Homo sapiens: one gene and its partners. Each later gene encodes a partner of the first gene's protein in a complex. Each region holds a gene or a part of one and is shown in the gene's direction. Other genes may lie near its edges. The genes, in order: TMEM17, MKS1, TMEM67, TCTN1, B9D2, AHI1 and CEP290.

What was found.
Region 2: TMEM17 (region 1) and MKS1 share a complex: the UniProt entries of both Homo sapiens proteins name them as parts of the tectonic-like complex.
Region 3: TMEM17 (region 1) and TMEM67 share a complex: the UniProt entries of both Homo sapiens proteins name them as parts of the tectonic-like complex.
Region 4: TMEM17 (region 1) and TCTN1 share a complex: the UniProt entries of both Homo sapiens proteins name them as parts of the tectonic-like complex.
Region 5: TMEM17 (region 1) and B9D2 share a complex: the UniProt entries of both Homo sapiens proteins name them as parts of the tectonic-like complex.
Region 6: TMEM17 (region 1) and AHI1 share a complex: the UniProt entries of both Homo sapiens proteins name them as parts of the tectonic-like complex.
Region 7: TMEM17 (region 1) and CEP290 share a complex: the UniProt entries of both Homo sapiens proteins name them as parts of the tectonic-like complex.

The regions. Positions count from the first base shown.
Region 1 is NC_000002.12:62,499,718-62,503,195, reverse strand, and holds the end of TMEM17 (transmembrane protein 17), read left to right. Parts: intron 1-401; coding exon 402-505; intron 506-645; coding exon 646-759; intron 760-1,708; coding exon 1,709-1,987; 3' UTR 1,988-2,978; downstream 2,979-3,478. UniProt on the Homo sapiens protein: Transmembrane component of the tectonic-like complex, a complex localized at the transition zone of primary cilia and acting as a barrier that prevents diffusion of transmembrane proteins between the cilia and plasma membranes.
Region 2 is NC_000017.11:58,207,099-58,209,255, reverse strand, and holds part of MKS1 (tectonic-like complex member MKS1), read left to right. Parts: intron 1-672; coding exon 673-743; exon of another isoform or gene 744-748; intron 749-1,081; coding exon 1,082-1,151; intron 1,152-1,254; coding exon 1,255-1,362; intron 1,363-1,526; coding exon of another isoform or gene 1,527-1,552; exon of another isoform or gene 1,553-1,695; intron 1,696-2,037; coding exon 2,038-2,157. UniProt on the Homo sapiens protein: Component of the tectonic-like complex, a complex localized at the transition zone of primary cilia and acting as a barrier that prevents diffusion of transmembrane proteins between the cilia and plasma membranes.
Region 3 is NC_000008.11:93,792,894-93,796,393, forward strand, and holds part of TMEM67 (meckelin isoform 1 precursor), read left to right. Parts: intron 1-304; coding exon 305-403; intron 404-2,515; coding exon 2,516-2,614; intron 2,615-3,007; coding exon 3,008-3,094; intron 3,095-3,500. UniProt on the Homo sapiens protein: Required for ciliary structure and function. Part of the tectonic-like complex which is required for tissue-specific ciliogenesis and may regulate ciliary membrane composition.
Region 4 is NC_000012.12:110,627,629-110,631,128, forward strand, and holds part of TCTN1 (tectonic-1 isoform 1 precursor), read left to right. Parts: intron 1-301; exon of another isoform or gene 302-596; intron 597-1,138; coding exon 1,139-1,290; coding exon of another isoform or gene 1,291-1,404; exon of another isoform or gene 1,405-2,629; intron 2,630-3,500. UniProt on the Homo sapiens protein: Component of the tectonic-like complex, a complex localized at the transition zone of primary cilia and acting as a barrier that prevents diffusion of transmembrane proteins between the cilia and plasma membranes.
Region 5 is NC_000019.10:41,357,650-41,361,149, reverse strand, and holds part of B9D2 (B9 domain-containing protein 2), read left to right. Parts: intron 1-3,127; coding exon 3,128-3,253; intron 3,254-3,500. UniProt on the Homo sapiens protein: Component of the tectonic-like complex, a complex localized at the transition zone of primary cilia and acting as a barrier that prevents diffusion of transmembrane proteins between the cilia and plasma membranes.
Region 6 is NC_000006.12:135,456,241-135,459,740, reverse strand, and holds part of AHI1 (jouberin), read left to right. Parts: intron 1-2,027; coding exon 2,028-2,247; intron 2,248-3,500. UniProt on the Homo sapiens protein: Involved in vesicle trafficking and required for ciliogenesis, formation of primary non-motile cilium, and recruitment of RAB8A to the basal body of primary cilium.
Region 7 is NC_000012.12:88,132,089-88,135,588, reverse strand, and holds part of CEP290 (centrosomal protein of 290 kDa), read left to right. Parts: intron 1-3,500. UniProt on the Homo sapiens protein: Involved in early and late steps in cilia formation. Its association with CCP110 is required for inhibition of primary cilia formation by CCP110.

The DNA.
Region 1 (3,478 bases):
TATCTGTGGGAGATTCATTTTTATTTATTTTATGCATTAATTTTATATGCTATTTACATAGAATTCTACAAAAGAGGCAATGATAATTATCTGTTGAATAGGATTTATGTTGATATTCTACATTAAATCTATACCAGTAGTATATGCCAAAAAGTCAGAAGACTGTAATGGCAAAATGGTAAAATAATTGAAAAATATGAAACGTACCCCCAAATAGCCAATATTTGACCTAACTGGTATTAGGATGAATATTCCTTTTACTGTCAATGATTATAAATAGGCATAAAATTTGGTGTTTTACTGAGCCAATATTATAGTTATTAATTCTAGGGAATAGGATATATATATATAGGGCATAAACCCAAGATTCATCATTTGTTCCTTTTCTGTTCCTTCTGTAGAAAATGAAATGGTCTCCAGTTTGGCACTGCAGATGTCACTTTATTTTAATACCTACTATTTCCCACTGTGGTGGGTGAGCAGCATTATGATGCTTCACATGAAGGTAAATCTAAGCTTTAATACTTTTGCTGCCCTGACGTTGTTAGAGTGTCAATAAAATTCAAGTTCTTAATAATTTTTTCTATCTTAAATCAATGTTACTATACATGAGATTTTACAAACATGTTTTGGCTTTTCTTTTAGTATTCAATCTTACCTGACTACTACAAATTCATTGTGATCACTGTTATCATCCTAATAACCTTAATTGAAGCCATCCGGTTGTATCTGGGCTACGTGGGTAACCTACAGGAGAAGGTAAGCTCTTTTTTCCTTTCTCTCAGTGATAGATATAAATGAAATCAGTTTTCATAACAAGTAAAAGGCAGTGAGGTGTGGCAGAAAGAGCACAGGCCTGAATTTAAAGCCTGACTCCAGCTTTACCACTTCTGTCACTGTGGTCTGTTTGCTTAATCTCTTGAGCCCTGGTTTCCTCATATATAAAATGAGGAAAATAATATTTACTTCACAGGTTTGTTGTGATTAAGTGAAATGATTTATGTAAAGTATATGAATGTAGTAAACACTTAAAATTGATATTTTCCCTCTTCTTATCAGTCTTGAAAATACATGGTTACTTAAACATGTGTATTTGGATCCTGAATAAGAAAATGGGGGAAAATTATGAATTCATTTCCTATGCCAGGCCCATGTTTTCTGCATCATCATGCTGCCTAAGCATTTGTGGTTACCAGAGTATAGGGATAATGCCTAAAGATTCCCGTGGTTTTCTAGGCCCTTCATAATAAGGCCCCACCCAGCCTGTCTTACTGTAGGTTTTGCTGTTTTCTCACTCAGCCATCCATTCCAGGCTGATGTGCTGATTCCCAATCATGCTAATTTCACGTGTTTGCTTACTTACCTTTTTGCCTCTTCCTTCTTCTCCACAACTTAAAAAGCCTACCTCCCTGAGGTCTTTCTTTCACCTACCCTAATCACTCCCTTATTTCTTGTAGCATTTAGTCTGTACTTCTAAATATTGCACTTAATTGTTCACTAAAGTGTAGTATTCTAGGATTGTTTTACATGAATTAGTTTTCTCATCTAGACTGTAAGTTCTCTGAGGACAAGGACCATGTCATCCTCCTTTGGAATCACTCACAGAGCCCATAATGTAGGTTCACGGTAGTGATAAGTACTTGTTTATCTGTATAAACAGAAACTGTATTTTACTGATTTTTATTACTCTTGATATGTGTCATTGCAGGTTCCTGAGTTGGCTGGCTTTTGGCTTTTGAGCCTTCTATTGCAGTTACCTTTAATTCTTTTCTTGCTCTTTAATGAAGGCCTAACAAATCTGCCCTTGGAAAAAGCGATACATATCATCTTCACTCTCTTCCTTGCTTTCCAAGTTGTTGCAGCATTTCTTACCTTAAGGAAAATGGTTAATCAGTTGGCAGTTCGTTTCCACCTCCAAGACTTTGACCGGCTCTCTGCAAACAGAGGAGACATGAGAAGGATGAGGTCATGTATAGAAGAGATCTGATCCAGTGTTGTTGAGTGAAAATCTGACAGATCATTCTAGAGACTGTAAGAGTTAGGAAAATATCAGAGCTCTGAGAAAAGGGACAAAGCAAGTGTTTTGAATTGTATATGCTCTCACTCTGAAATTCCAAGGTTGGGGGCAATGATGAAACTTTGTACAGTATATGAAACAGTATATTAACCCTAAAACCTAGATGTTGTCCACCTGATGCCAAATTTCTTAATTTTTTTTGATGTTGTTGTCTTTTTCAGGAGTGTAGAAATCTATGTATTGGTGGTTGTCATTTGCCAGCTCTCTCGTAGCATTTCTGGTTAGAATCTTTAACTAGAGATGTATACATTTCTTTAAAACTTGTTGGTTATCCATGTCTTGTCTGTACATATGACCATGTTTCTTGACATGGAAATACCAGTCAGTGTTCCTATGTATTTGTCTATATTTGTAAACCAAGAGACCGGCTGGGTGTGGTGGCTCACGCCTGTAATCCCAGCACTTTGGGAGGCCGAGGTGGGCAGATCATGAGGTCAGAAGATCGAGACCATCCTGGCTAACACGGTGAAACCCAGCCTCTACTAAAAATACAAAAAAAAAAAAAATTAGCTAGGCGTGGTTGCAGGCACCTGTAGTCCCAGCTACTTGGGAGGCTGAGGCAGGAGAATGGTGTGAACCCAGGAGGCAGAGCTTGCAGTGAGCCGAGATCAAGCCACTGTACTCCATCCTGGGTGACAGAGCAAGACTCCATCTCAAAAAAATAAATAAATAAAAAATAAAACAAGAGACCAAATTTTCATGTCTGCTAGGGTTAAATTCTAACCCTAATATTAGCTGTTATACTGAGATGAAGAAGAAAACAGGTGGATTGCCTTGGTATTTAGGAAATATTTTTGTTATAAAATTACAACTTTCATAAAACCATATTCAGTATTTGTAATGGTGGTATACAAAATGCTTTTACAATAAATTATTAAATATTTAAGGTATCAGCAGCAAATCATCCTTGTCTTGTGCAATTATTTTGGGCTATAGATTTGTGTTTTTTATTACAGAGTTGCAAGAGAAGGAAGGAAAACAAATCCTAGAGAACTTTCTATGTAGTGGGCACTGTAGTAGGCATTTTAAATTAGCACTTGTGATTGCATCTACTAGGTTCTTGTTCACCAAAGAACTGCTTCATACCCATTAAATTCACGTGAGGCTTGATTTGGAAACCAGAGCGCCTCTTAATACATATGAGAGCTAAGATGGCCAAAGGGACTATACTCATGATCCTAAATGAGCATGCTCCCTTGCTAATAGGAGAAATCTATTTTAGGAGAATTGGTTAAGAACAAAGTTGCTTGGGTGTATCTGAACATTATATTTAAGTGACTGTTGGACTGTCTTAATGGATATGATATGTTCATTACAGGTTTTCTTTTTTTCTATAGGGAAATGGGCCTTCATAATGTATTTTACTGAGGGACAGTTGTAGCTGCATTAAAAACTGCTCTT
Region 2 (2,157 bases), on another chromosome or scaffold:
TGTCCGCCCCGTCTGGGAAGTGAGGAGCGCCTCTGCCCGGCCGCCCCATCTGGGAGGTGTACCCAACAGCTCCGAAGAGACAGCGACCATTGAGAATGGGCCATGATGACGATGGCGGTTTTGTCAAAAAGAAAAGGGGGAAATGTGGGGAAAAGAAAGAGAGATCAGATTGTTACTGTGTCTGTGTAGAAAGAAGTAGACATAGGAGACTCCATTTTGTTCTGTACTAAGAAAAATTCTTCTGCCTTGGGATGCTGTTAATCTATAACCTTACCCCCAACCCCGTGCTCTCTGAAACATGTGCTGTGTCAACTCAAGGTTAAATGGATTAAGGGCGGTGCAAGATGTGCTTTGTTAAACAGGTGCTTGAAGGCAGCATGCTCCTTAAGAGTCATCACCACTCCCTAATCTCAAGTACCCAGGGACACAAACACTGTGGAAGGCCGCAGGGACCTCTGCCTAGGAGAACCAGAGACCTTTGTTCACGTGTTTATCTGCTGACCTTCTCTCCACTATTATCCTATGACCCTGCCACATCCCCCTCTCCGAGAAACACCCAAGAATGATCAATAAATACAAAAAAAAAAAAGAAAAGAAAAAAGAAACTGTCTTTTTCTGAATGACTTGCTTTCCTCCCAGGCGAGCTTACTATATTTGGTCTTTGGCTTTCAGACTGGTCAAGCCCAGCATTCCAGCAGCTCTCAGGAGTAACACAGACCTGCACCACCAAGTCCCTGGCAATGGTATGGAGAATGAGAGCGGGTATCTGGAAGGGAATGAGATCTGCTCCTGGGATGGCATTTGAGGTTTTATCAGGCCAAGTGCTGTGCGCCCTGGGGAGGATTCCAGAGTTGGGTGACTTGTGTGTGGGTTCTACAGGGCCACCTGGTCCGGAGATCCTGTCTGTCTTTTTGAGCATGGCAGCAGCTTGTATTTGGGTGTCCTTTTGCATCTCAGACTCCTATTTCCCACCTGGGTGATAATTTTTCTTTTTCCCTTGTGAAGATAACCTTGTCATTGGCCACAAGGAGAACAGATTCCAAGGGAGGCCTTGCCCACCCTATGACACTCCTTTTTATAGGACAAGGTGGCTCACTTCTCCTACCCATTCACGTTTGAAGCCTTCTTCCTCCATGAGGATGAATCTTCTGGTGAGTAGCTCAGCAGTTGATCCTGGGCCTTGGTTCCCCTCAAGCAGTGCTGTCTCTTGGTGAAGGCCGCCTGTGACCTGGCCGCTTCTCTCCTTGCTCCCAGATGCACTCCCGGAGTGGCCTGTGCTCTACTGTGAGGTCCTCTCGCTGGACTTCTGGCAGAGGTACCGTGTGGAAGGCTATGGGGCTGTGGTGCTGCCTGCCACTCCAGGTAACCGCTCGTCTCTGCCCTTCTGTGGCCCACATGCCCTAGGCCCTAAGAACAAGACTAACACTCGAATGCTTCTGGTGAGGGGTGGAGATAATTGGGAATTGGAAATGTTTGGCTTGAAAGAGTTCCTGTTCCTCTGAGGACTTTCTGCCCCCCTCCATTAGCGACAATGACGTGGCCTTGGCACTGACTTCCTGACAGTCTCTCCATGTGCTTCATGCTCCTCTGATTGGACTCAGGGTGAGAAGCTGTATGGCAAAATTGGCTCATAGCATATGTGTATTGAATGAATCAGCATTCAGTTTGGAATAAAAGCATCTGTCTTTTACTGTGTGCCAGGCATTGTGCCATACTTCTCACTTAATTCTCCCAGTCACTCTGTGAGGTGCAGGTGGTATTATTTCCATTTTACTAGATGAGGAGAATGAGCTTCAGAGAGGTTAAGAAACCTGTCCTGGGTATGCAGGTAATAACTGGCAGAGCGGAAATTTGAATTTCTCCCTGATTGATTTCCATACAGGTGCTATGGGTAACCATGATAACCTGCACCAGAGGCCAGGTCATCACCAGACCAGGTGTTTTAGCTGAGTCTAGGCCTGTGTCATTGCTGGGGAGTCAGTGAGGGGCCACATGCCCTTTCTGGACCTGGCCCCAGTCTTCTCTTCCCTTGCGCAGGCTCACACACCCTGACAGTCTCCACGTGGAGACCTGTGGAGCTTGGCACGGTGGCTGAGCTGAGGAGGTTTTTCATTGGCGGTTCTCTGGAACTGGAGGACCTCTCCTATGTACGGATAC
Region 3 (3,500 bases), on another chromosome or scaffold:
TCCCCAGTAGCTGGGACTACAGGCACCCACCACCATGCCCAGCTAATTTTTTGTATTTTTAGTAGAGACGGGTTTCACCGTGTTAGCCAGGATGGTCTTGATCTCCTGACCTCATGATCCGCCTGCCTCGGCCTCCCAAAGTGCTGGGATTACAGGTGTGAGCCACTGTGCCCGGCTGACTCCTGTGTCCTTTCAACATTTCCCACCCCACCATTTTTTTGAGCACTTCCTTACTTGTTCACAGTGTTTTTGAACACCGATGACAGAAATTACATAAATTCTCAATTGTTCTTTTGTTTTTTAGATTGCTTTGGGTGTATTGGGTGGGCTAGCTGTTTTAGCATCTCTTTTGAAGACAGCAGGATGGAAGAGGCGCATTGGGAGTCCCATGATTGATTTACAGGTATAATCTCAGGAGTTTTTTAAGAATATTTTTATCTTTTGACCATTCTGGATCCTTCTCATAAGACACAGCTAGAGAATAAGTAAAAAAGTTGCATTGAATTTTTCTGGGATATGTAATTAGGGTAAGTATTGCTGGGTCATATGGTATATGTGTACCTCATTTTCTTCCCACCATACTGTATGCCAGTCTATATTCCCACCAGCAATGCTCTTCTTATTTCTGCACATACTTGGCAACACTTGATATTTTTCCAACCTTTTCATTTTTTGCCAACCTCATGGCATATAGTAGTATGTCATTGTTGATTTCATTTTCATTTCTCTGTACTCTTCATATACATTTTAATCGTTTGGGTTTCTCCTTCTGTGAACTGCCTGTTTATATCCCTTGCCCATTTCTCTATTATGTTTCCAGTTTTTATTGTTTATTTGAAGAATTTTTTTTTGTATTTTCTAAATAGTAACCCCTTTTTGGTTTCTGATGTTGAAATATATGACCAAATAAATATGTGACCCATCCGTTATTTTTATCCATGTAGTCCTTTGTTTAACAGAAACTTTCAGGTTTGTTTTTGTTTTCATTTTTGTTTTTTTTTGTTGTTGTTTTTTTGAGACGGAGTCTCACTCTGTCGCTGAGGCTGGAGTGCAGAGGCACAATCTTGGTTCACTTGCAACCTCTGCCTCCCGGGTTCAAGCAATTCTCCTGCCTCAGCCTCCTGAGTAGCTGGAATTACAGGCGCACACCACCATGCCTGGCTAATTTTTGTATTTTTAGTAGAGACGGGGTTTCACCATGTTGTTCAGGCTGGTCTTGAACTCCTGGCCTCATGATCCGCCCACCTCAGCCTCCCAAAGTGCTGGGATTACAGGCATGAGCCACCACGCCTGGCCAGAAACTTTTGGTTTTGATATCATCATATCTGAATATTTTTTTTCATGTTATGATACGTGCTTTTGGGATCTTGTTTAGGAAAACCGTCCCTATATCAAGATCACAAAGATAGTCCACATTTTATTCTATTAACTTTATACTTTCACTTCATGGTTAACCTTTTATTTTTATTAAACATTTAAAAAATATTTACCATGTACCAGGCACTTTTTAAAGCTTTATGTATGTAATTTTCTGAATCCGCACAGTAGCTCTTTGAAGTTAGGTTATTATTATTATTTGCGTTTTACACGTGATGAAATTGAGGTAAAGGTTAAATTTTCTACTCACTTGATTTTTGCAACTCAGTAATAGGTATTTCCGTTTTGTTGATGAAGAACATGAGAAAGGTTACATGGTAGCTTTAACCAAAGTATCTTTCTGATTCCAAAGCCAGTGGGCTAAGGAATCAGCAGGGGTACTTGATTTACTACTTGGGATAGTCCAGAAAGGCTTCCCAGAGAAATGAACTTTAAGTGGGATTATCTGTTCATTCTATAATAGTCACTGAGGCTCTATTGTCTAAGTGTCTGGCACTCTACCAGGAGCTGGAGAATGTGTTAGTGAGCAAAGACAGACATAGTCTGTGCTCTCAGAAATCATGAGAACTTACCAGAGAGGGGAAGAGAAGAATATTTGGTAAAACAATGCCCATTTTATTCCAGAAAGTATTTGAGATGAACGTATGGAGTGGTTAGTCATTGACTACATGGCTGGAACTGGCAGATGAGGCTAAAAAGTTAATTTTGGCCCATATTGTGAAAGACCTTGTGGATCAGGAATTTATATTGCAATGAGGAGTTGTTCATTTTTAACAAGGGGAGTGACACAATCCAATTTACATCTTAGAAAACTAACTCTGGTGGTAGTGTGGAGGAGAGATTAGAGGGGAGGATTCCCAACTAAGAGAAAATTAGGAAGCAGTTCAATTTTCTTAGATAGTGAAAGATGAGAAGAGTTGAAAGAAGAGGCTACCAGGAACGGCCAGAAAGGTAAGGAGCCAAAAGGTAGCAAGGAGGAGGAAGCAGGTGGTCTTTATAGCTGGATCATATGGGGATATGTGAAACAAGGCTTCAGGCTTAAGAAATGGAGTGGATGATGTATAAAAGTGGTAGTGTTACTAAAAGTGGTATATACATGGAGTCTTAAACAGCTGTAATTCTTTTTTTTAAATTGCAGACAGTTGTGAAATTCTTGGTGTACTATGCTGGTGATCTGGCCAATGTTTTCTTTATCATCACAGTGGGAACAGGTCTTTACTGGCTTATTTTCTTCAAAGTGAGTGAGTTTCTGAATTTTCCCCAACTGCCAATATCTGAATAGTTGAAAAGCTTTCTTTATAAAGGAACTATTTTTATTTGAGAGAATTTTTGATCAACAGTATTAAGAAAAGTTCCCAACTCCCCATTCCTTGAGTGTGCTGAGCTTATCGATTACATCACTATCTTCCTCTTTTATGCTTTCTTTGGTTTATAAATTGTGCTTAGTAAAAACCTTGTTCAATTGGAAGACTTAGGTGGGAGGATCCTGTGAGTCCAGAATCAAGTCCTGCCCGGGCAGCATACTGAGACCCTCCTTTCCCAAAAAAAAACAAAAACGAAAACAAAAAACAAACAAACAAACAAAAAAAACTGTGTGTGATAATATTTAATCAAGTAATTTTTATTATAGGCACAGAAGTCTGTGTCTGTTTTGCTGCCAATGCCAATTCAGGAAGAACGTTTTGTCACTTATGTTGGATGTGCCTTTGCTCTGAAGGTAAGTTTTAAAGGACAGGTTACCAAATTTAAAAGGCCTGCTAATGAACTAACAAGTCTTTAAAATTAAAATGCTTTCAAAAATCTTTGGCGTGAAATTCACTTTGGTTTTGAAAGAAAGCATTAATTATTTTATGTGGTAAATTTACTTTTATTTATAGTAGATGCTCAGTCTGAAACTCTGCCTTAAATATTTTTTTCAAAGAAGCCATGAATTTGTATGGCTTATTTGATAAAATGATATTTCAGTATATAACTTTCTTTAAAGTCTGATGATACATTCACAATGGGACAAAATGTCTTCAGGCATGAATTTTGTCTCCATTAATCAAGGGTAAAAGGTACCACTCTGGATAAAGTGTTGAGATCTTAAAAGTTGTTTTGTCTGTCTCCAGATTCCTTTGCTC
Region 4 (3,500 bases), on another chromosome or scaffold:
TTAACTTTATTTCCTCCTGGTTTAATGGTTGAAAATCAGGCTCAGCTTTGAACATTACCTGTGGTTTCTATTTCCTTTTTTCTTTTATTTTTACTAAGAATATTTGCATGAAAACAGGATCTTTATTTTTATCTGAGCATTTAGCTCAAATATATGTCTAGATCCAAAGTACATGTACATGTAAAATGTTATCAGGATATCAAAGATCAGAGACACGTTTATGCTTTTATTTGTCAAATTCTGTCATATTTTCAGAATATCTTTATAGATTTTGGTTTTGTTCTCTTGTGATTGAAAACAGGCAGATGCTCTGTGTGATTTGTAATCTGAAGTGATAACTGGCCAGTGACTGTCAGGTTCTCTGTCGTAACACCAGCCCAGTGAACATGCCAGCCTGCTTCCTTCTCTCTCTTCTGTACACAGCACATTTTACTCCAGGACTTTCACGGTGGCTGTGTGAGAGTAGAAGTCGGATTCTTTCATTCCCATAGCCATCCGGAGAGAGCTTCTCCTTACAGGTTGATACAGCAAACTCATCAGTCCAGGGGCTAGAGAAATAGACGGATTATTATTGGCTTCTGTTGTGCTGTTTACTTGTAAGTGCTACAAACTATTACTTCCCCATTATTAGAAGAAGCAGGCTGAGTCTGGAGGTCCTGTTTGTTTAATAAGCTTTAAAAAATCCTGGGAGAAGTGAATATGGAAAAATACACTTTTTTTTTTTTTTTTTGAGATGAAGTCTCACTGTGTCACCCAGGCTGGAGTGCAGTGGCGCTATCTCAGCTCACTGCAACCTCTGCCTGCTGGGTTTCAGCGATTCTCCTGCCTCAGCCTCCCGAGTAGCTGGGATTACAGGTGCACACCACCATGACTGGCTAATTTTTGTATTTTTAGTAGAGACAGGATTTCACCGTGTTGGCCAGGCTGGTCTCAAACTCCTGACCTCAGGCAGTCCGCCCGCCTTGGCCTCCCAAAGTGTTGAGATTACAGGCGTGAGCCCATGCGCCCAGCCAAGACACTATTTGTTTTTTACATCAGCCTTGATGCTATTAAAAACTTTCCAAAACCTTTATATAGGTCATACATATTATACATATATTTTATACCGATTTAAAATACTGTTTTTTTTAAAAAACAGATAAACCTGCATTATCCTTTATTAATCCAGAAGTACCTGATGAAAACAATTTTGATACATTGATGAAAACATCTGATGGTTTTACATTGAATGCTGAATCATATGTTTCCTTCACAACCAAACTGGATATTCCTACTGCTGCTAAATATGAGGTGAGCCTGAACTTGATTGATTCTTTTCATCCCATCACAAATATCTTTCCTTGTAAGTTAATTTTCAAGGTTACCAGGAAAACTGGGTTCCTTGAGACAGAGTTGATATTATAGACTAAAAAACTTAATGTTCATGCCTACAAATCAAAGATCATGAAAATTAAAACTGAATATTTGAAGATGGATTAAAGACTTAAATGTAAGACCTAAAACCATACAAACCCTAGAAGAAAACCCAGGCAATACCATTCAGGACATAGACATGGGCAAAGACATCATGAGTAAAACAACCAAAAGCAATGGCAACAAAAGCCAAAATTGACAAATGGGATCTAATTAAACTAAAGAGCTTCTGCACAGCAAAAGAAACTATCATCAGAGTGAACGTGTGACCTACAGAATGGGAAAAAATTTTTGCAATCTATCCATATGACAAAGGGCTAATATCCAGAATCTACAAGGAACTTAAATAAATTTACAAGAAAAAAACAACCCCATCAAAAAGTGGGTGAAGGATATGAATAGACACTTTTCAAAAGAAGACATTTAAGTGGCCAACGAACCTATGAAAAAAGGCTCATCATCACTGGTCATTAGAGAAATGCAAATCAAAACTGCAATCAGATACCATCTCACGCCAGTTAGAATGACGATTATTAAGAAGTCAGGAAACAACAGGTGCTGGAGAGGATATGGAGAAATAGGAACGCTTTTACACTGTTGGGTGGGAGTGTAAATTATTTCAACCATTGTGGAAGACAGTGCGGCGATTCCTCAAGGATCTAGAACCTAAAATACCATTTGACCCAGCAATTCCATTACTGAGTATATACCCAAAGGATTATAAATCATTCTATAAAGACACACGCACACGTATGTTTATTGCAGCACTATTCACAATAGCAAAGACTTGGAACCAACCCAAATGTCCATCAGTGATAGACTGGGTGAAGAAAATGTGGCACATACACAACATGGAATGCTAAGCAGCCATAAAAAAGGATGAGTTCATGTCCTTTGTAGGAAACCATCATTCTCAGCAAACTAACATGGAACAGAAAACCAAACATCGCATGTTCTCACTCATAAGTGGGAGTTGAACAATGAGAACACATGGACACAGGGAGGGGAACATCACACACAGGGGCCTGTCAGAGGGTGGTGGGCTAGGGGAGGGGATAGCATTAGGAGAAACACCTAATGTAGATGATGGGTTGATGAGTGCAGTAAACCACCATGGCACGTGTATACCTACGTAACAAACCTGCATGTTCTGCACCCGTTATCCCAGAACTTAAAATATAATAATAAAAATAAAACTGAATATTTGAATTCTGAATAGAGGATTTAAGGTTGTTTATTCTGTGATAAACTTGTATTTTGTCTCTTCAGAGTTCTTTGTTCTCCTCAACCTTAAAAGATGCAGCAAAATGCTTGAGGCATGTTGCTGAGATCATGGAGTAGATTGGTTGGTTGTCTGGTCATCTTCTCAAAATTGTATTTAGTTTTACAGATTTTGGAAGATGTGTGCTGTTTTATGTCTATTCAGTAGTACACCTTTAAATGGGACACATATTAACTGAATGAACCTTAACTCTTTTGGAAGCATCTTTTTAAAAGCAAAGTATAAAAGCAACATGTACTAGTTCTAAAAGTTCAACATATAGAGGCATATAAGTTGAAAGATCCCTGTATCCATTAATATTCATACTGCAAATCACTTTGAAGAGATTGGTGTGTATTCTTCCTGATTTTTAAATATGTCTATTATAATGTATATATGGTGTTGTATAGAAGTGGGATTTATAGGTATCCACATTGTTCTAGAAAATTCCTTTTTCAGTGATAAATCATGTGCATCTTCCCATGTCAATATAAAATTTACCATTGAGCATTTTCCATGTGCCAGGCACTGTGAAGAGCTTTTCAGGCATTACTTCATGCACCCCCCTGGGAGGGATGCACCATTGTCTCCATTTACCTGATGAGAAAAACTTAGGCACAGGAAAGCAACTTGTCAGAACTAGTGATAGAGCTGCGTTGTTGTTGTTGTTGTTGTTGTTTTTGAGATGGAGTCTTGCTGTGTCGCCCAGGCTGGAGTGCAGTGGTGTGATCTTGGCTCACTGCAACCTCCGCCTCTCAGGTTCAAGCAATTCTCCCACCTCAGCCTCCCAAGTAGCTGGGATTGCAGGCACCTGCCATCATGATCA
Region 5 (3,500 bases), on another chromosome or scaffold:
GCTTGGGCTCTGCAGTTAGAGCTGAGTCTGAATCCAGTCCCATGATGGGACCTTGGTCTGCTATAGTCACTGCTATGTCACCAGCATGGAAAACAGTGCTTGGCACATAGCAGGTGCTGAATAAATGTTCATGAACTCACCTTCTCAGAGCCTGTTTCTTTACCTGTTAAATGGGGATTATATTAGCTCCCACCTCCTAGGATCACTTATTTGTCCAAGAAACATTTATTGAGCACCTTCTGTATACCAAGAGCTGGGTTTGTGGTCTTGGGGATCCAGCAGTGTGCAAGGTCCCTGTTTTCCTGGGCCATACAGTAGGGGAGACAGAAAATAAATAAGCAGGCCAGGCGCGGTGGCTCATGCCTGTAATCCCAGCACTTTGGGAGTCCGAGGCGGGCAGATCACCTGAGGTCAGGAGTTTGAGACCAGCCTGGCTAACATGGTAAAACCCCATTTCTACTAAAAATACAAAAAAAATTAGCTGGGCATGGCGGCGTGTGCCTGTAATCCCAGCTACTCGAGAGGCTGAGGCAGGAGAATCGCTTGAACCCAGGAGGCGGAGGTTGCAGTGAGCCGAGATGGTGCCATTGCACTCCAGCTTGGGCAACAAGAGCAAAAGTCTGTCTCAAAAAAAAATAAATAAAATAAAATAAATAAACAGATAAACGAGTGCAGTTGGGTGTGGTGACTCACCCCTGTAATGCCAGCACTTTGGGAGACTGGAGCAGGAGGATCACTTGAGCCCAGGAGTTTGAGACCAGCCTGGGCAACATAGTGAGACCCCCGTCTCTACAAATAAATAAAAAATTAGCAAAGCATAGTGCTGTGTGCCTGTCGTCCCAACTACTTGGGAGGTTGAGGTGGGAGGATTGCTTGATCCTGGGAGGTCAAGGTTGTAGTGAGCTGTGATTGTGCCACTGCACTCCAGCCTGGGTGACAGAGGGAGATCTTGTCTCCCCCCACCCCCCCAAAAAAAGAAAGGAGCACCGTGATTCCAGACAGTGGTAAGTGCTAGGATGAAAAGAAATGATGTGGCAGGGACTAGTGTTTGGTGAAGAGGGTCAGGGAGAACCCCTCTGTGGAAGTGGCACTTGAGCTGGGCCCTGAAGGATGAAAACAAAAGCTAGGGATGGGGACACCCAGGAGCAGAGCTTTCTAGGCAGAGGGAACAGCCAGTGCAAAGGCCCTGAGGTGGGGAGTCAGAAGTGGGACAGTGAGGCCAGAGGGTGATGAGGGAGGGGGAGAGTGATGGGAGATGAACTCAGGGAGGGGAGCAAGAGCCAGGCCACGTGGGCCATGGTGGAGGGTCTGTAAACTGGGGGGTGAGGAGGGGATTAAGAGTCCTAGAGGGTGGATTAAATGAATGGATGCTTAAAGTACTTAGCATAGCATCTGGGATTTAGTTAGTACTCGGTGCATTTTCTTTTTTTCTTTTCTTTTTTTTTTTAGATGGAATTTCGCTCTTGTTGCCCAGGCTGGAGTGCAATGGGACCATCTTGGCTCACTGCAACCTCCGCCTCCTGGGTTCAAGTGATTCTCCTGCCTCAGCCTCCTGAGTAGCTGGGACTATGGGCGTGCGCCACCACACCCAGCTAATTTTTGTATTTTTTTAGTAGAGATAGGGTTTCAGAATGTTGGCCAGGATGGTCTCGATCTCTTGACCTTGTGATCTGCCTGCCTTAGTCTCCCAAAGTGCTGGGATTACAGACGTGGCTAATTTTGTGGGTGTGTGTGTGTGTGTTTTTAGTAGAGACAGAGTTTTACCATTTTGGCCAGGCTGGTCTCGAACCCCTGACCTCAAGTGATCCACCTGCCTTGGCTTCCCAAAGTGCTAGGATTACAGATGTGAGCCACTGCGCCCATCCTAATTTTTGTATTTTTAGTAGAGATGGGATTTCGCCATGTTGGCCGGGCTGGTCTCAAACTCCTGACCTCAGGTGATCAGCCCGCCTCAGCCTCCCAAAGTGCTGAGATTACAGGCGTGAGTCACTGCGCCTGGCTTGTTTGTTCATTTTTTGAGATGGAGTCTCACTGTGTCACACCAGCTGGAGTGCAGTGGTGCAATCTCGGCTCACTGCAGCTTTTCCAGCGATTCTCGTGCCTCAGCCTCCCGAGTACCTGGGATTACAGGCACCTGCCACCACTCCAGACTAATTTTTGTATTTTTAGTAGAGACGAGGTTTTGCCATGTTGGCCAGGCTGGTCTTGAACTCCTGACCTTAGATGATCCACCCCCCCCTAAGCCTCCTAAAGTGCTGGGATTAGAGGTGTGAGCCACTGCGCTCAGCCTTAATTTTTATATTATTTGTAGAGATGGGGTTTTGCCATGTTGGTCAGGCTGGTCTTGAACTCCTGGACTCAAGGGATCTACCTGCCTTGGCCTCCCAAAGTGCTGAGATTACAGGTGTGAGCCACTGTATCCTACCACTCAGTGCATTTTAGCTATCATTATCACCCCTCAGTAGGATCGAAATTGTTATGTGTGTTTCAGGATGCGCTCCTGGAGGGTACCCTTGGCCCCATCTTAATCCTTGGACTAGGCTTGAAAATATGGGGTGAGAATCGTAATAAAATGATATTGAAGACTTATCCCGTGCTCACTATGCTCATTACCCATTCATGGATTAATGGGTTAATGGATTAGTGGGTTATCATGGGAGAGGAAGTGGTGGCTTTATAAAATGAGAGAGAGAGACGTGAGTGGCATGTTAGCACACTAGCCTTGGGACTCTCTGAAGAGTTCCAGCAAGAAGGCTCTTACTAGATGGGGCTCCTCCACCTTGGTCAGTCTCCTATAACTGTGAGATAGAAATTCCTTTTCTTTATAAATTATCCAGTTTTGGATATTATGTTAAGAGTAACAGAAAACAAATGAAGACAATGAGGAATGCATTATTACTCAGCTCATTTTATAGATGGGGAGACCAAGGCAGAGAAAGCTAACTTGCCCAAGGTTGCAGAGGCAGGAAGAGGTAGTGCCAGGATTTGAACCCAGATACTTGGTTCCAGAGTCCATGCTTCGTAACCCCTACCAGTAGATGCCACAGAGAAACAGTCCTATAGCCACAGCGGCATCCCCTTCCCGATGGCTGCCTCCCACCCCTCTATGTCCCGGCTCTCACTGCAGGGGCGGCATGGAAGCTCCTGTCAGGCGTGCGGGAGGGCCAAACGCAAGTGGACACCCCGCAGATAGGGGACATGGCTTACTGGTCCCACCCCATCGACCTGCACTTCGCCACCAAAGGTCTTCAAGGTGGGTATCACACCTGGACCCGGGTCCAGGCTGAGGGGAGGGGGCCAGTAGCCTCTGAGGTCCCTGGGGCTGGGAACACCAAGACCTGTCCCTGCTCCCCATACCACGTAGGTCCCTTTTGCAGCCAAGTCTGGCCCTGGAGAGGCTGAGCTAAGGCCTTCCCAGGCCTGCTCAATAGGCGATCCCAAGTTTGTATGATTAGGGCAGAGGCCAGGGTGGAGCAGGAGGTGGGAAGGTGGGGGGTCAG
Region 6 (3,500 bases), on another chromosome or scaffold:
ACTTCTGTCAGCTATTTGATATACTGTAGTTTTTGAGGGATGTGTCTATTTCATCCAAATTTTGCATTTCTATAGCATCTGAAAGGCTGTCCCATGTTTTCATTCATGGTATTGGCAGTTTGTTTTCTCTCAATTTCTTGATCAGCCTTAGGATTTTAAATTTATGAGTCTTTTCAAAAACCAACCTTTAGCTTTGATTTTCTCTGTTGTACATTTATGTACTATTTTAGTGATTTTTTTTCTTGTAACTGTATTTTCCTTCTTTGTACTTATTTGGGTTTGATTTGCTACTTATTTCTAGCTTTAAAATTGGGTTTTATAAGAAAGATTTCAGTCTTCTTTTATATGCATTTAAGACTAAATTCCCATTTAAGTACTACTTTACCTGCATCTCCAAAATTTTTAATATTGTGTGTTTTTATTATTTAACACAAAATATTTTCTAATTTCCATTTTAATTGATCATTATTTAGAAGTATGTTGCTTAGTTTCAGGCAGCAGATGCTTTTCTAGTTATCTTTTATTGGTTTCTGTCTTCCATTGTTGTCAGATAACATATTATGAATGATTTCAATCCTCTGAGTTTATTGAGGCCTTTTTAATGACCATTTTATGGTCAGATTTGGTAAATATTCCATGCTCATTTGAAAAGAATGCAATTTCTAATGTTGAGTGCAGTGTCCTATGTATGTCAGTTAGGTCAAGTTTAATTGTGCTCAGTTCTTCTTATTAATTTTTTTGGTCTACTTATTCTGTCAGCTGTTGAGAGAGGTATTAACATTTCCATTCCGATTTTCAGTTTATTTTTCTTGTATCTCTTGTCAAGTTATCACTTTTATCATAATGCAGCGCCCTTCTTTATCTCTAATAATTCATAGCCCTAAATACGATGGGAGATCCAGTTTTGCCCTTCAGTGCTTTTCCACTTAGCCATTTAGTCTTCTGTCTCATGCTGCTTCAAAATTTGGCAAATTCTTTGAGCAGGAGACTGGCTATATGTTAGACATCCTTCAGGTATCCATTTTTGTCACTGTAGCCCCCAAGCATGCCAAAATATCCGCTGGTTTCTCTGTCCCTCAGTAGCAACCTTCTGCCAGAAATCACACCTGGATTATCAACCTAGAACTGTGACCAGAATTGGTAGATGACCCCAGATGAAAAGTTGCTCTTGGTCCTTAGTGTAAATTGACCACACCCTCCAGGGCTTCACCTTTGCCTATTTTGTTTTGGTCCCCTTCCCCTGGCAGATCATGGTCTGCTAGCACCACAAGCCTGGGAGATTTCACTACCTCTCTAGCTTCTCTGTAGCATCAGAATTCAGTTTTGTGAGAAGAATTGGTCATGTGTTTGAGGCTTCTCAAATCTCCAGTTTTATCATTTTAGTCCTGTGGAATCACTAAAAGTTTTGCTTATTTCTCATTCTCCTGGCAGTGACTTTCTGCCTAAGCCAAACTCTCATCTTCAGCTCACACCCTGAATCAGCAAATGTCCCCAGAGACAAAAACAGCTGCCAGTCCATCAGCTGACCTCTGACTGATTCTCCCTTTCTGGAATTTTAATCTGTCTACTATATCTTCTTTCTGTACTTTTCTGATGCCTTTAAAATTTAAAATAAGATATTTGTAATTTATTTGGCTCTTTCCAGTTGTTACCCAAAGTGTTTACCTGCTGCATCCTACTGCATCCCACCCAGAATTAGAAATTCTAGTTGTCATATATATTCTACTTAGAAAATACCTGGATAAAGTTACTTTTCTGACTTTGACTCTCTTTTTTTTCTTTTTGTGTTTCTCCTACTTATTAGGAAAAATATAAACAAGGATTTTTCACCTTATTTGTAATGTATTAGCAAATGTAGTATTTTACTTTCACACTATGGTTTGCTGTTGTCTGGCTTTTTCTTTCTTTCCCCCTGAAGTTCCTTTGAACACAGTGAGATCATCACAGATCTTAAAGATTAGGTTATATGTAAATACTACTATGGGAACAACTAATTATAACATTGATTTTTTTTTCCATGCGTGTAGTTGCAGATAATAATGAAGATGTTGATGGTGATGGTGTTCATGAAATAACAAGCCGAGATAGCCCGGTTTATCCCAAATGTTTGCTTGATGATGACCTTGTCTTGGGAGTTTACATTCACCGAACTGATAGACTTAAGTCAGATTTTATGATTTCTCACCCAATGGTAAAAATTCATGTGGTTGATGAGCATACTGGTCAATATGTCAAGAAAGATGATAGGTAATTTTTTTTAATTGCACAACTAATTCTTGAAACTGAAACTAGTAGAAGTCTTTTTTCTGCCATTGGTAGTTGAAAGTCAGTGGGAATAGAGTTATGGATTTGTATTAGAGAATAGTCTACTAGTTGTAGGTGTTCATCAGTCATTAACATTGATCAGAATGTTGTAGAAGAAATGGAGAACATCTAATTCAGTAATTACTTTTTTTCCGAGATGGAGTCTCGCTTTGTCGCCCAGGCTGGAATGCAGTGCTCAATCTTGGCTCACTGCAACCTCTGCCTCCTGGGTTCAAGCGATTCTACTGCCTCAGCCTCCCAAGTAGCTGGGATTACAGGCACTCGCCACCACTCCTGGCTAATTTTTGTATTTTTAGTGGAGGCGGGGTTTGGCCAGGATGATCTCGAACTCCTGACCTCAGGCGATCTACCTGCCTCACCCTCCCAAAGTGCTGGGATTACAGGCATGACCCACCGTGCCTGGCTCAGTAATTACTTTTAAGTGGAAGGGAATAATTCATTTTAAGTGGTAGAGAGCTTCTGCCAGCTTAGTAGATGTAATTTATGACATAAAGTTGCATTGTAAATATTTTATATTGCATTGTAAATGCTTTAATTGTCTAACCTCATATTTTTCTTTTGAAAGTAATGTTATCTGGGCTTCAGGTAAGGTAAATGAATCTTGAATGTTTTTTCTAAGAGTACTTCTATAGCTAATGCATGCTTGAAATCCCAAATGAAAAGTACAATGAAATACACATTTATACTAGAATTTTTTAAAAAATTGTTTGGAAAGCCAGTGGGGAATGGAAACAGGAAGATTGTCCAAAAAAAGCCCATTCACCTATTCATTTGCCTTAGGGCACACAAAGAAAATATGACAACTCAAAGGGTTTACAGTCTTGTGCCTTTTTTATGTAAAATCAATTTTATGTCTTTTTTTTTTTTTTTTGAGACAATATCTCACTGCGTCTCACTGGCTGGAGTGCAGTGGTGCAATCACAGCTTACTACAGCCTCAACCTCCCTGGGCTCAGGTGATCCTCCCACCTCAGACTCCCACGTAGCTGGGACTGCAGACATGTGCCACCATGCCCAGCTAACTTTTTTTCTATTTTTTGTAGAAACGAGGTTTCATCATGTTACCCAGGCTGGTCCCAAACTCCTGAGCTCAAGCAGTCCACCTGCCTCAGCCTCCCAAAGTGCTGGGGTTACAGGCTTGAGCCGCTGTGCCTGGCAATGTCTATTTTATTATAA
Region 7 (3,500 bases), on another chromosome or scaffold:
AATGTGGTAGAGAAAGTATGGATCGATGCCACTTAAATGTTAGGAAGAAGCTCTTAGAGCATTATCTGTTTAGCTAACTGCAAAACATAGCAGACATGTGGATTTTTTAATAGTCATCAAGGATCTAACTTATAATATACACTGGTAGAATTGCTTAGGGGGATGTCTGTGGTTTTCTGGACTTTTGTTCTTCTATATAGACCTGTATCAGTTGACTTATCATTCATACCACACACCCTTAGCTAATCAGAACTACCTTGTCCATTTATATCTTAGACTATTGTCTTTTTTCATAGTCACACACAGAGAAAACTTGAATATATGGCCTGTGTTCCTTTTTGGCTGCTCAATTCCTTGAGATGAAATATGGGTATGGGTTGCTTTGGCAATTACTTCTTTGCCGTTAACCAGTCATTCAGTTTTATTGAGTCTTTACAGCATACCAGAGGCTGCTAGTTACTAGTGATATAGTGGGCAACTATGTTCTGGTTCTCAAGAATATTCATAGTCAATAATAAGCATAACATAGTGATAATATGATACTTAGGGAGATACATAAGGTCATATTCTGGCATACTCTGGAGAGAGATACCGTAATCAGCCTTGAGGTGCAGGATGTGATCTGTAAACTGAGACCTGAAGTATAGTTAGACTGGTAAGAGGAATGAGGATATATATGGTGGTTAATAAAAGAACATTCTGGGTAGAAGATATAGCATTTGCTAAGACCTAGAGGTAAGAGATGTTATGGAGTATTTAGGAAACTACAGTTATTCATTTTGACTGAAATATAAGTGAAAATAGCTTTCATAGAGTCCTTACTATGTGCCAGGCACTTCATATGCATTAATTCATTATTGCTTATTTGATACTTGTCATATGAGATAGTTGTCATTTCTGCCATGATACAGATGAAGAAATGGAGACACAGAAAGAGTAATTGCCCATGGTTGCACAGCTTATAAATGGTAAAGGTAGGATTTGAAAACAGTCTTACTCAAGAGTCTGTGCTATCTTGCCTTCCCAGTTTTATTTTTTATGATCCTCTGGAGAGATAAGCAAGGGCCAGTTCCTAATGAATTTGGTTCTTTTCCTGAAAGGAGCCAGTGAAGAGTTTTGAGCACAGGATATCATGATCAGATCTATACTTTAAAAGTTTACTGTACTTTGTAGAGAGTGGATTGAAAAGGGCCAAGACTAGTAAGGAAACATTTGTGTTAATTCAGGGAAGTGCTAATGATGGCATTTGCCTGAGAAAGACAAGTGTGAGAGAAGTAGATGTAATTGGATGTGGTGAATGTAATTGGTTGTTGGAGGAGAGGGAGGATGGAGAGTCTGCCTAATTTTGTGGGTTGGGCCACTAAATAGGTAGATAGTGCCATTCATTAAGGAGGAACACAAGAGGAATTTGGAAAGCTTGAGATTATTTCAGTTTTGTAGATGTTGAGTTTGAGGTTCTTCTGGGCATATTCAAAAAGGGTATCTGTGGATATGGAATTCACAAGAGACCCTGTACAGATGATGAGGATTTATGAATCATCAATGTAGACATTATTGAAGCCAGAGAAGTGATTGTAAGGCACGTCTCTGAGAAATGTCTAATAAAGCAATGAAATAGGAAGAGTGCTTCAAGGAAAAGCTCAAGAAAGGAGAAACAGAGTGTGATGTTTGAGAAGACAAGGGAAAAAAACATTAATAGCATTAAATGCTTTAGCATTAAGTTCTTGGCTTCTCTTCTTGTAAAAATTTCCCAATTCAGAACACAGTGGGATTATTAACTTTCAATTGATAATAATAATGATAGGCAAACTTCTAAAATTTGTATTGTAGTTTGCATTTTATTATAAACTTTCTTTAAATTTTTATTTTGAAAAATGTCATATCTTCATAAAGATTGTAAGAAACACACTGTTGGTGTTAATGTAAATTAGTTCAACCATTGTGGGAGACAGTGTGGCAATTCCTCGAAGATCTAGAAGCAGAAATACCACTTGACCCAGCAATCCCATTACTGGGTATATACCCAAAAGAATATAAATCATTTTCTTATAAAGATACTTGCACACATATGTTCATTGCAGCACTATTCACAATAGCAAAGACATGGAATCAACCCAAATGCTCATCAATGATAGACTGGATAATGAAAATGTGGAACATATACATCATAGAATACTATGCAGCCATCAAAAGAGAATGAGAGGTCAAGCGTGGTGACTCATGCCTACAGTCCCAGCACTTTGGGAGGCCGAGGCAGGCAGATCACTTGAGGTCAGGAGTTCAAGACCAGCCTGGCCAGTATGGTGAAACCCCATCTCTACAAAAACAAAACAAAACAAACAAAAATTAACTGGTCATGGTACTGTATGCCTGCAGTCCCAGCTACTTGGGAGGCTGAGGCAGGAGAATGACTTGAACCCAGAAGGCAGAGGTTGCAGTGAGCTGAGATCGCACCACTGGACTCTAGCCTTAGCAACAAAACTAGAGTTTGTCTCAAAAAAAAAAAAAAAAAAAAACCGGAACAAGATCATGTCCTTTGCAGGGACATGGGATGGAGGTGGAAGCCATTATCCTCAGCAAACTCACACAGGAACAGAAAACCAAACACTGCATGTTCTCACTTATAAGTGGGAGCTGAACAATGAGAACACATGGACACATGGTGGGGAACAACACACACTGGGACCCGTCAAGGGGTCGGGGTGGGAGAACATCAGGAAGAATAGCTAATGGATGCTGGGCTTAATATCTAGGTTATGGGTTGATCTGTGCAGCAAGCCACCATTGTACACATTTACCTAAGTAACAAACCTGCACATCTTACACATGTACCCCAGAACTTAAAAGTTGATGGGAAAAAGAAAAACAATAACCACCCACATACCCTTCATATAGATTCACCAGTTCTTAATGTTGTGCCAACTTTGCTTTATCTTTTTGTCAGTATTTTTACACACACATGTATTTCTCTGTCTCTTGTTTGTTCAATCACATTTTTTGCTGAGTCATTTAAGAGCTAATTGCAGATATGATACTTTGCACTTAAATATTTCAGCTTGTCTGTTTGAAAAAGAAAGATGTTCTCCTACAATGAACACAATATAATTGTCATGCTCAGGAATTTTAATATTGATTCAACACCATTATCTAGTCCATAATGAGATTTCTTCTAATGGCCCAATAATATCCTTCAGTCTCCCCACCTCCAATATCCAAAGTTCTGTCAAGGATCACATACTACATTTGGTTCTTTATTATAGACTTTTTAAATATCGTTGTATACCATTGTGATTCTATCGTCTCCTTTAATAAAGAGGAGAACCAGAAAAATGAAAGGTCATAAGAGGAATGAGGTTTGGAGAATAGGTGAAAAAAGGCATCATAATGTTTATAATAATGTTTGCCTGTTCAGAGAAACAAGAATCACAGATAAAGTCACTTATATGTAGATAAGAGAATGCTGTATTACTTTTTGCTATTCTATTCACTGATCATTTTTC